Linked DNA regions of Homo sapiens: region 2 is linked to region 1. The links come from fine-mapping of genetic effects on gene expression. A gene starts in region 1. The other region holds a variant in brackets. All regions are shown on one strand. Distances are from middle to middle.

Evidence for each region. PIP is the estimated chance that this variant, and not a neighbour inherited with it, causes the effect. A credible set is the group of variants that fine-mapping cannot tell apart.
Region 2: its variant is the best candidate, but not a certain one, in a credible set for the expression of UAP1L1 in skeletal muscle (FUSION, PIP 0.72).

What each region holds. Positions count from the first base shown.
Region 1 is chr9:137,074,218-137,079,575 of GRCh38, forward strand. UAP1L1 (UDP-N-acetylglucosamine pyrophosphorylase 1 like 1) reads left to right here and starts at 3,300. Exons shown (of 9, transcript NM_207309.3): 1 at 3,300-3,604; 2 at 3,833-4,037; 3 at 4,285-4,460; 4 at 4,759-4,931; 5 at 5,039-5,232. The coding sequence starts at 3,316. RefSeq lists enhancers at 65-678, 389-448, 4,024-4,902 and silencers at 3,133-3,222, 3,233-3,482, 3,493-3,552, 3,563-3,662.
Region 2 is chr9:136,669,964-136,675,321 of GRCh38, forward strand. It overlaps EGFL7 (EGF like domain multiple 7), which reads left to right. Exons shown (of 11, transcript NM_016215.5): 7 at 1-46; 8 at 206-367; 9 at 987-1,051; 10 at 1,963-2,125; 11 at 2,301-2,715. The coding sequence ends at 2,323. AGPAT2 (1-acylglycerol-3-phosphate O-acyltransferase 2) reads right to left here. Exons shown (of 6, transcript NM_006412.4): 5 at 4,772-4,844; 6 at 3,180-3,964. The coding sequence ends at 3,789. It overlaps MIR126 (microRNA 126), which reads left to right and starts at 639; the gene lies at 639-723. RefSeq lists enhancers at 1-471, 4,812-5,311. The variant A/G (reference allele first, on the strand shown) is at 3,122.

The DNA.
Region 1 (5,358 bases):
ATTAATTCATTCATGCAGCAGGTACTCCCTGAACATTTGCTGTTGCCCAGTCACGGTGTGGGCTGGGGTTCAACACTCGTTTGTTCAATCAACAAACATTGATTGAGTGCCTACTGTGTGCTGCATTTACCTGAGGTGATGGGGGCAGACCACTGGCCTAAACAATGCCCTGCCTGGGCTGGGCACGGTGGCTCATGCCTGTAATCCCAACACTTTGGGAGGCCGAGGCGGGCAAATCATGGGGTCAGGAGTTCAAGACCAGCCTGGCCAACCATCGCTACTAAAAATACAAAAAATTAGCTGTGTGTGGTGGCGGGCGCCTGTAATCCCAGCTACTCAGGAGGCTGAGGCAGGAGAATCACTTGAACCCGGGAGGCGGAGGTTACAGTGAGCCGAGATTGCACCACTGCACTCCAGCCTGGGCGACAGAATGAGACACGGTCTCAAAACAAAAAACAAAACAAAACAAAAACAGCAACTCCCCGCCTTTGTGGGGTTCGCTTCTCACAGGGGAGTCAGGTAGCCAAGAATGCAGAAAGGCAGCCTGGCACGGAGGATGGGAAGGTGCTCACCGAGTGGGCGTGGCCTGGGGAGCTGAGGCCTGACCAAATGCGTCCCCAGCCACACGTTTCTCTGGGGACAAGCGGTCCAGGAGGGAGGAACAGGAAGTGCAGAGACCCTGAGGCAGGCCCGAAAAGCAACTCCATGCAGGTCCAGAAGAGTGCATGTGGGCCTTGCCCCAGGGGTGAAGCCCCCTCCCAAACTCAGTGAGGGCATGTGTGTGGAGGTGGGGGCAGAACCCAACTGCAAGGAAACACAACTGCCTGAGGGGTCCACGGGGCAGCATGAGGGAGATGTTAGTTTTCATTTTGGGTCCTAGATCACTGTCAGAGGTGTGTGAACCAGAGCAACTCCATCTTGAATGGGAGCTGGGTAAAATAAGGCTGGGGCCTACTGAGCTGCATTTCTGGATGGTTAAAGGATTCCAAGTCAGGATGACACAGGAGGTCGGCACAAGATACAGGTCACAAAGACCTTGCTGATAAAAGAGGTTCCGATAAAGAAGCCGGCCAAAACCCACCAAAACCAAGATGGCAACGACAGTGACCTCTGGTTGTCCTTGCCGCTACACTCCCACCAGCACCATGACGGTTTACAGATGCCACTGCAACGTCAGGAAGTTCCCCTATATGGTCTACAAAGGGGAGGGATGAATTATCCACTCCTTGTTTAGCATGTCATCCAAAAAAACATAACAATGGGCAACCAGCAGCCCTCAGGGCTGCTCTGTCTGTAGAGAAACCATTCTTTATTCCTTTACTTTCCTGATAACTTGCTTTTGCTTTACTGTATGGGCTTGCCCTGAATTCTTTCTTGCGCAAGATCCAAGAACCCTCTCTTGAGGTCTGGAACCTCTTTCCTGTAACAGCATGATTTGTTTTTCTTTTTCGGTTTGTTTGTTTGTTTTTTGAGACAGAGCTTCGCCCTTGTTGCCCAGGCTGGAGTGCAATGGCGCGATCTTGGCTCATGGCAACCTCCGCCTCCCAGGTTCAAGCGATTCTCCTGCCTCAGCCTCTGGAGTAGCTGGGATTATAAGCATGCAACACCATGCTTATATATTTATATTTATATTTAATATTTGTATCTATTTTTAGTAGAGACAGGGTTTCTCCATGTTAGTCAGGCTGGTCTCAAACCCCAGACCTCAGGTGATCCGCCCGCCTTGGCCTCCCAAAGTGCTGGGATTACAGAAGTGAGCCACTGCGCCCGGTTTTTTTTTTTTTTTTTTTTTTGAGACAGAGTTTCGCTCTGTCACCCAGGCTGGAGTGCAGTGGTGCGATCTTGGCTCACTGTAACCTCCGCCTCCCGGGTTCAAGTGATTCTCGTGCCTCATCCTCCCAAGTAGCTGGGACTACAGGTACACGCCACCACACCTGGCTGATTTTTGTATTTTTAGTGGAGACGGGGTTTCACCATGTTGCCCAAGCTGGTCTTGAACTCCTGGGCTCAAGCGATCATCCTGTCTCGGTATCCCAAGGTGTTAGGATTACAGGCATGAGCCACTGCACCTGGCCACCATTTGAATTCTTTTATGCAGTCACATATATTACTTTTAGACTTACTATATAGTTTCTAGGAGAAAGTTTTGTGCCCAACTGGCAGAAGCTACCCTTTCATATTTTTCACAAGCAAACTATTTTATTTTTATTTTTATTGAGAAGTCTCACTCTGTCTCCCAGGCTGGAGTGCAGCAGCAGGATCTCGGCTCACTGAAACCTCCGCCTCCTGAGTTCAAGGCCTCCTGCCTCAGCCTCCCGAGTAGCTGGGACTACAGGCGCCTGCCACCACACCCGGCTAATTTTTCTATTTTTATTAGAGACGGGGTTTCACCATGTTGGCCAGGCTGGTCTCGAATTCCTGACCCCACTTAGGACTCCCAAAGTGCTGGGATTACAGGCTTGAGCCACCGCGCCGACCACAAGCAAGATATTTTAAAACCTGATAGTAAAATAACAATGTGGGCGAGGGGCTGCAGAGCGCTCTGGTCACCAGGCAATGGGAAGCAGGAAGGGTGTGCGGGAGGGAGCCCCAAGCCGCGGGATGGCATCCCGGAACCTGGTCTGGTTCCAGCCTCCCAACAGCTCAGCCGTAGCCCAGGCCTCTTCAATGCACTCTGGCCGGTTGTCTCTGCACCAGGAGGTCTCCGTCCAAGTCTTGGTTAGCGCAAAGGTGGCCATGCCACTCTCAGGTTCAAAGCCCGTGCTGGGACAGAACCTAGCTTTCCCCTGCGGGGCGTCCCTGGGGCCTCTTCCTCCCTTAGCTCAATGGTCGATTCCTCTGCCCACGCCAGCTGGCGCGACCCAGAGGGTCCTGGGATCTCTCGGGGCGGGGCGCGGAGTGGACAGGGCGGGCATGGGCCCGGGGCCTGGAGAAGAGCAGGAACGGGGACGGGAGCTCGAGGGAGCAGGCCAGGGCCAGACACCGGAGCGGGTCCAGGGGACGGAGAGGGACGGGGGACAGGCTGGAGAGATGGGGCTGGGCCCTGTCTCGAGTCTCGGACCGGACGCGGGGGGGCTGGGGGGATGTAGACAGGGCGGGGTCAGAGAGAACCCGGACAGAGTCTGGGGTGCGCAGCGGGGGTGGGCGGGCTCCAGGGCAGGGCGCGGGACCGGGCGGGATGGGGCGGGGCGGGGCGGGGCGGGGCGGGGCGCCCGGGGCCCGCCCCACTGGGGGGTCTACACCGCCCGCCCGGTCTCGTGACGCTGGTCAGTGGCGCGGGTCACGAGTGCCGACTTGACAGACGGCAGCGGCGACATGGCTTCGGAGCAGGACGTGCGCGCCCGGCTGCAGCGCGCTGGCCAGGAGCACCTCCTGCGCTTCTGGGCCGAGCTGGCGCCGGAGCCACGAGCCGCGCTGCTGGCGGAGCTGGCGCTGCTGGAGCCCGAGGCGCTGCGCGAGCACTGCCGGCGGGCGGCGGAGGCCTGCGCGCGCCCCCACGGCCCGCCGCCCGACTTGGCCGCGCGCCTGCGGCCCCTGCCCCCAGAGCGCGTGGGCAGGGCCAGCCGCAGCGACCCCGAGACACGGCGGCGCTGGGAGGAGGAAGGTAAGCGGGGTGGGAGGCCCTGGGGGCCGGCAGGGGGTCGTGCCCACGGAGCGGGTGGGAACCGAGGCCGCGCTCGGGGAACTGTAGTTCTCCTCGCTACTTTGAGACGTGTCTCGCCTCACGCGTTCCGGCCCCCGAGTCCTGGCGCCCCAGCCCCAGAGTTGGTTTCCCCTAAAGCGGAAGGGTGGGCGGGTCCCGGGCGTCCCTTCACGGCGCCCGTACCCCCAGGTTTCCGTCAGATTTCTCTGAACAAGGTGGCCGTCCTGCTGCTGGCTGGGGGGCAGGGCACTCGCCTGGGCGTGACCTACCCCAAGGGTATGTACCGTGTGGGGCTGCCCAGCCGGAAGACCCTGTACCAGCTGCAGGCGGAGCGGATTCGGCGGGTGGAGCAGCTGGCCGGTGAGCGCCACGGGACCCGCTGCACCGTCCCCTGGTGTGTCCTGCCTGCCCTACCTCGGCCCGGAGGTACCCTTCCCCACGCCCCCCCACATCCCCGCTCCAGACGCGAGCCCCAACCCCGGCACAGACCGGGACATTGCCCAGAACCGGCCCAAAATGGGGCCTGGCCCCAGCCCCAACTGGACACTGGACCCCGAACCCCGATGCCGGCTCTGGTCCGAGCCCCGTCTGCCTGCAGGGCCAGGCGTACTCGCGGCCGGCTCACCGCGCCTCCCTTGCAGGTACGTCATGACCAGCGAGTTCACTCTGGGGCCCACGGCCGAGTTCTTCAGGGAGCACAACTTCTTCCACCTGGACCCCGCCAACGTGGTCATGTTTGAGCAGCGCCTGCTGCCTGCTGTGACCTTTGATGGCAAGGTTATCCTGGAGCGGAAAGACAAAGTTGCCATGGCCCCAGGTGTGGCCCGTTCCTGAGACGGGGAGGGACCGCCCAGACTAGAACTGGGAGCGTAGTTGGGGGTCCACGCGCCCGGGTTCGCGGCTGCCCCGAGGCTGTGTGGTCCTGGGTTAGGCGCCTCTTTTTCTGGGCCTTGATCGTCATTTGTCACATGGTACACCAACTGGGCTGTCTGGTTAGTGACCAGGGCTGCCTTAGGCACAAGGCCGGGGCTTCCCCCGCCTCCAGCACGTCCTAGACTCCCAGAGCGATCCCTGGCGGGAGCCCTCGCGATGCCCATTCCCTTCTCCGTCTGCAGACGGCAACGGGGGCCTCTACTGCGCGCTGGAGGACCACAAGATCCTGGAGGACATGGAGCGCCGGGGAGTGGAGTTTGTGCACGTGTACTGTGTGGACAACATCCTGGTGCGGCTGGCGGACCCTGTCTTCATCGGCTTCTGTGTGTTGCAGGGCGCAGACTGTGGCGCCAAGGTTAGCGCCCGACTGCGCGGCGCCCCGCACCCGAGGCTGGCCCCGCCCCTCACGGAGCCCCGCCCCTCCGCCCAGCCCTCGGAACCCATCCCTGGTCTTGGCTGCAGGTGGTGGAAAAGGCATACCCCGAGGAGCCCGTGGGCGTGGTGTGCCAGGTGGACGGTGTCCCCCAGGTGGTGGAGTACAGCGAGATCAGTCCTGAGACCGCACAGCTACGTGCCTCCGACGGGAGCCTGCTGTACAATGCAGGCAACATCTGCAACCACTTCTTCACCCGAGGCTTCCTTAAGGCGGTCACCAGGTGTGCGGCAGCAGGTGGCTGCGGATTGCCGGCCAGAGCCGCCTGCGTTGACCAGGGACCCGCGGGGTCCCAGTGAGCTGAGTGCCCTGGGCCACAGCGGCTGTGGTCAGGAGTGGCTGTGGTCAG
Region 2 (5,358 bases), 400 kb before region 1:
CGCTGCCGCTGCCCTGCAGGATGGCGGGGTGACACTTGCCAGTCAGGTGAGGCTGGCTCTACCCTGGGGGGCCCTGGAAGGGTCCTGGGCACCTCCTTGCATGTCCTGGGGTTACTGCTGGCCCATGAGTGGGTGGTTGTGAAGGGAGCTGTGTGGGCAGGACCCCTCCCGCAGGCATGGCCGCCTGACACCCCGTTTCCTGCAGATGTGGATGAATGCAGTGCTAGGAGGGGCGGCTGTCCCCAGCGCTGCGTCAACACCGCCGGCAGTTACTGGTGCCAGTGTTGGGAGGGGCACAGCCTGTCTGCAGACGGTACACTCTGTGTGCCCAAGGGAGGGCCCCCCAGGGTGGCCCCCAACCCGACAGGTAAACAGCCCTGGCTGTGCCTGGCCTGGGGAGGCGGGCAGGCAGTGGACATTGCCGTGTGGCTGTTAGGCATGGTGGGGGGCACTGGAATCTGGGCGGAAGGCGGTGGGGACTCCCTCTCCAGGGAGGGAGGATGGGGAGGGAGGATAGGTGGGTTCCCGAGAACTGGGGGCAGGTTGCCCGGAGCCTCATATCAGCCAAGAAGGCAGAAGTGCCCCGTCCCGGGGTCCTGTCTGCATCCAGCGCAGCATTCTGGAAGACGCCACGCCTCCGCTGGCGACGGGACATTATTACTTTTGGTACGCGCTGTGACACTTCAAACTCGTACCGTGAGTAATAATGCGCCGTCCACGGCACCGCATCGAAAACGCCGCTGAGACCTCAGCCTTGACCTCCCTCAGCGTGGCCGGGACCCTGAGCCTCTGCGCAGAGCCACCCGCCCCGACGTACTTAGGCGGCATAGCCCTGAGACCTCTGGCCAGCGCCAGGCAGGCAGCGGGGGCGGCAGAGGCCTGGGCCTGAGTCTTCTGGCTCTGCCTCTCCCTGGGGACAGGAGGGAGCCTGGGGGTGTGGGTGGGGAGCCGGCCGGCCGTGACCCAGCGCCTGGCTCTGCCCGCAGGAGTGGACAGTGCAATGAAGGAAGAAGTGCAGAGGCTGCAGTCCAGGGTGGACCTGCTGGAGGAGGTGAGGCATTGGTGGGGGGGGGGGGGGGCAGGCAGTCCAGGGTGGACCTGCTGGAGGAGGTGAGGTGTGGAGGGGCAGGCAGTCCAGGGTGAACCTGCTGGAGGAGGTGAGGCATCGGGGGGGTAGGCAGGCAGTCCAGGGTGGACCTGCTGGAGGAGGTGAGGCGTCGGGGGGGCAGGCAGTCCAGGGTGGACCTGCTGGAGGAGGTGAGGCGTCGGGGGGGCAGGCAGTCCAGGGTGGACCTGCTGGAGGAGATGAGGCGTCGGGGGGGGAGGCAGGCAGTCCAGGGTGGACCTGCTGGAGGAGGTGAGACGTCGGCAGGGGGCAGGTCTTCACAACAGCAGAGGCCCAGGCCCGGGTACAGGCTCCGTAGTCTCCTGGGACATGGTCCCGACCCACGGATGGCTGGGGGTGGTCTGAAAAGGTCCTGGCCCTGGGGAGGTGGCTTCCTCGCTGCTGACTGCCGAGGGGGCCCTGGCCTGGATCCATGCTGGGCAGAAGCAGCTGGACACTGACCAGGACCCCCCAGGGCCGGAGGAACCAAGCTTGACAGCCCCCCAGACAATACACAGAGCCTGGACCCAGACGAGACCTCCCCACCCCCCCATCTTTGTCCCCACCAGGACAAAGAGCTCTTGCCAGTCTTCCCACTGGCCAGTGGTCCAGCTGTCCCCCTAGTTCTCCTGCCAGGGACCCCAAGGCTGGGACCACCCCGCCAGCCTGATGCCCCAGGCACCCACTCTGCGGCAAGCTTTTCTGCCACGGCAGCCCCCTCTAGTGGACACTTGGAGCCCTGCCGCGGAGGCGGGGGCTGGAGGCTTGTGGAGCCCTTCCCAGGGGTCCTCCCTAGACCCCGGTGGAGCAGAGAGGGCGGGGGCCGGCCCAGGGTCACTGCCCTTCTGCACCCACAGAAGCTGCAGCTGGTGCTGGCCCCACTGCACAGCCTGGCCTCGCAGGCACTGGAGCATGGGCTCCCGGACCCCGGCAGCCTCCTGGTGCACTCCTTCCAGCAGCTCGGCCGCATCGACTCCCTGAGCGAGCAGATTTCCTTCCTGGAGGAGCAGCTGGGGTCCTGTGAGTGCCCCCACCCTCCAGAGCCCTCCTCCCGGGTCTGGGCCCAGTGGGCCTAGAGGGGCTACCCAGGCTTGGGGGTCGGGGGCGACCAAAGGCCAAGGGGCCAGTCAGATCTAGCTGGGCGGGGAGGCTGTGGGGAGCAGTGATCTCTGACCTTCGCCTCATCCAACCCTAGGCTCCTGCAAGAAAGACTCGTGACTGCCCAGCGCCCCAGGCTGGACTGAGCCCCTCACGCCGCCCTGCAGCCCCCATGCCCCTGCCCAACATGCTGGGGGTCCAGAAACCACCTCGGGGTGACTGAGCGGAAGGCCAGGCAGGGCCTTCCTCCTCTTCCTCCTCCCCTTCCTCGGGAGGCTCCCCAGACCCTGGCATGGGATGGGCTGGGATCTTCTCTGTGAATCCACCCCTGGCTACCCCCACCCTGGCTACCCCAACGGCATCCCAAGGCCAGGTGGGCCCTCAGCTGAGGGAAGGTACGAGCTCCCTGCTGGAGCCTGGGACCCATGGCACAGGCCAGGCAGCCCGGAGGCTGGGTGGGGCCTCAGTGGGGGCTGCTGCCTGACCCCCAGCACAATAAAAATGAAACGTGAGCTGCTGTGTCAGTGGATGGACTGGGGGCCTGGGAGGAGGGCGCTCACCTCCTGGCCACCCCTCCCAGACCCACTGCTGGGTGCCAGCTGGCAAAGGGGGCCTGGTGGAGCGGGCAGTCGTGGGGTGGGGAGGGGGTCCAAGGCAGAGGGGGTGGGCAGGTGGTTTCTGTGAGGCCACAGAGAGCTTTGTCCTGGGGACATGTTGGCCCCAACCAGAGGCCAAAGAGCAAATCTCTGGCCTCCTTCCCAGTAGCCTGAGGATCCCGGCACACTTGCCCGTTAGGCGACACCCCCACCCATCGATGGAAGTAGTATAGGGTGATGTGGGTCCACTCCTGGATAGGGAACACGGGTGGGTGGCGGTGCCTGCACCCTGGGCCTCTAGGCAGGGCAGCTGGGAAGACAC[A/G]GCGTCGCCTCCACCGCCCTGGTCACCTGCCCGCCCTGTGAGTGACCACAGCTCCCCAGCCACTTCCAAGAGTGTGTTTATAAAAAAACAGCAACGGAGTACAGTGCTGACCCCACAGAGTCTTCCAGGCCAGCAGGAGCAGCAGGCCCCGATTCCCGGCTCCCTGTGGCCCAGGGTGCGTGAGTCTGGGACTCCTGGCCCTCCAGGCCCCTCCTCTCCCAGAGAGCCTGATGCAGCTTGTGGGCTGGACCCTGGAGCCCAGCTGCACCCTGGTGGGTCCCAGGCGGCTGAGCAGAGGGCTCGGACAGTGTGCGTCTGGCCTCGGGGTCCTCCCATCTGCTCCTGGGCCATCGGGGGCCTTGTGGCTCAGCCCACCAGCGGGCCACAGCCGCAAGCCTCATCTTTATCATCCCAGCTCCCAGAGGTGCCGTGGGCGCGAGTCCCTGCCCTCGAGCCCGGGGAGGGTCCAGCTGAGCCCCCTGCAGGGGACACCAGGGGCCTGTGTCTGAGGCCAGTGACAGAAGGGGCTTCCTGCTTCCCGGGCTGAGTGAGAGCTGGGGGAGCCGGACAGAGTGGTATTTGGAAGCCGGGAGGAGTCCCCTCTGCCCATCCTCCAGCCATCGGCTTCCACCTGCCCTCCCCAGGTCATGCCCTGCCGTGGTCTGGGCTACTGGGCCGGCTGCACGCCAGACCCCGCAGTGGCCCCGTTCTCCTGGGGGGTCTTGGAGATGTGGAGGAAGGTGGTCCTCATGGCCCGGTGGCAGGTGTCCACGAGCGCAGGGACGTCCGCCGCAGTGAGGCCGCTGGTGGGGATGGCTTCCAGCACCTGCACTGTGACTGTTCCTGTGGGGGAAGCAACAGACCTCAGTGGCCTGTGGGGAGCTGGGGCCCACCTCAGCCTGCTGCCCTGGCCTCGCCTCTCCCCAGCCCCCCACAGCCCCTCCCTGGGAAGCCCGAGGCCGGGCTCTTCCCCTGGACTCCCTAGCCGTGGTGGGTTATTTTAATTGCAGTAACGTTGCTGCAGTAAACCCCATGGCTGCCTGGCCTTCACGCCGCATTTTCGACAAGTCTGCGCTCCCCTGTTACTGCCCCCAGAAAGCCCCACTTCCTGATCAGCCCCTACCTCACTGCCTGGCCTCTGCCCTCCATACGGGGCGAGGGGCTGTGGGAGAGATGGAGCTGGGTTCCCCCACTGCTCTCCAACTTTGACCCCACTGTCCTGCCTGGGCACCAGGTGCCCACGTTCTGGGAACTGGCTGGAAGGGGCAAGAGGTCATGAGCCCCGCAGCCTGTGCCCCTGGGCTGCCTGGGTTCCATCTACCCTATGCGGGCATCAGCCTGGACACATGGGCTCAGAGGCCGCCCTCCAGGCCCCCAAGCTGTGTGCACAGCTGGGGTCCATCCGTGTGAAGTCTCTTGGAGCCTCAGTTTTCTCATCTGAAAAATGGGCCCAGCACCACCCATCTCACAGGGCCATGAGGCCATGAAGCCCACAGCTGGGACTCCAGCCTGAGTCACTCATTCGCCACATGGTCACCGTGTGGCCACGCCACGGGTGCCACCCGGAAATGGGAACGATGAGGGGCCCGGGGCTCCGTGACTGTAGGGTCAGGCGGGGCCTACACCCCGGGTGCACACATGTGGGGGTACCTGAAGTGAAGAACTTCTTCTTGGTGTTGTAGAAGGAGGAGAAGGAAGAGTACACCACGGGGACGATGGGCACCTGCAGGCAGGGAGACGCACAGCTGAGGCAGCCCTGGGGACAGGCCAGGCACACCCCAGGCTGCATGTGGTTGGGGAGCCCTGTCCTGCGGCCCACCCACCCCTGCCTTCGCTGCTGCCATGGGTCCTTGTGGCTGTCCTGCCCCTGGGACCTGGGATATGTGTCCTGCTCTGGTTGGCCCAGAGTTCCATAAGCTCATCCTGCAAATTTTTACTCATCTCCTCTAGGAAGCCCTCCTGAGCTAGCACGTGTTTGCCTGGTTCACACCTGTCCCCATATTGGGTCTGCAGCTAGCCAGGGGGGCAGGGCCCTGTCCGGTTTAGGAGGAGATTATGGCACTCTTCCCTGCCCACGCCTCTCTCCCAGTCCTCTCCATCTCAGGAAGCCAGTGAGGGAGGCAGCCCTAGCCCGGGGGAGGGGTGGAGCCTGCTGGTGTTCCTGGAAGTCACCGGGGTCAAATCCAAGGGCACTTGGGGGTGATCATTAACCCGAGGCAGCCAGGGAACCTCCAGGG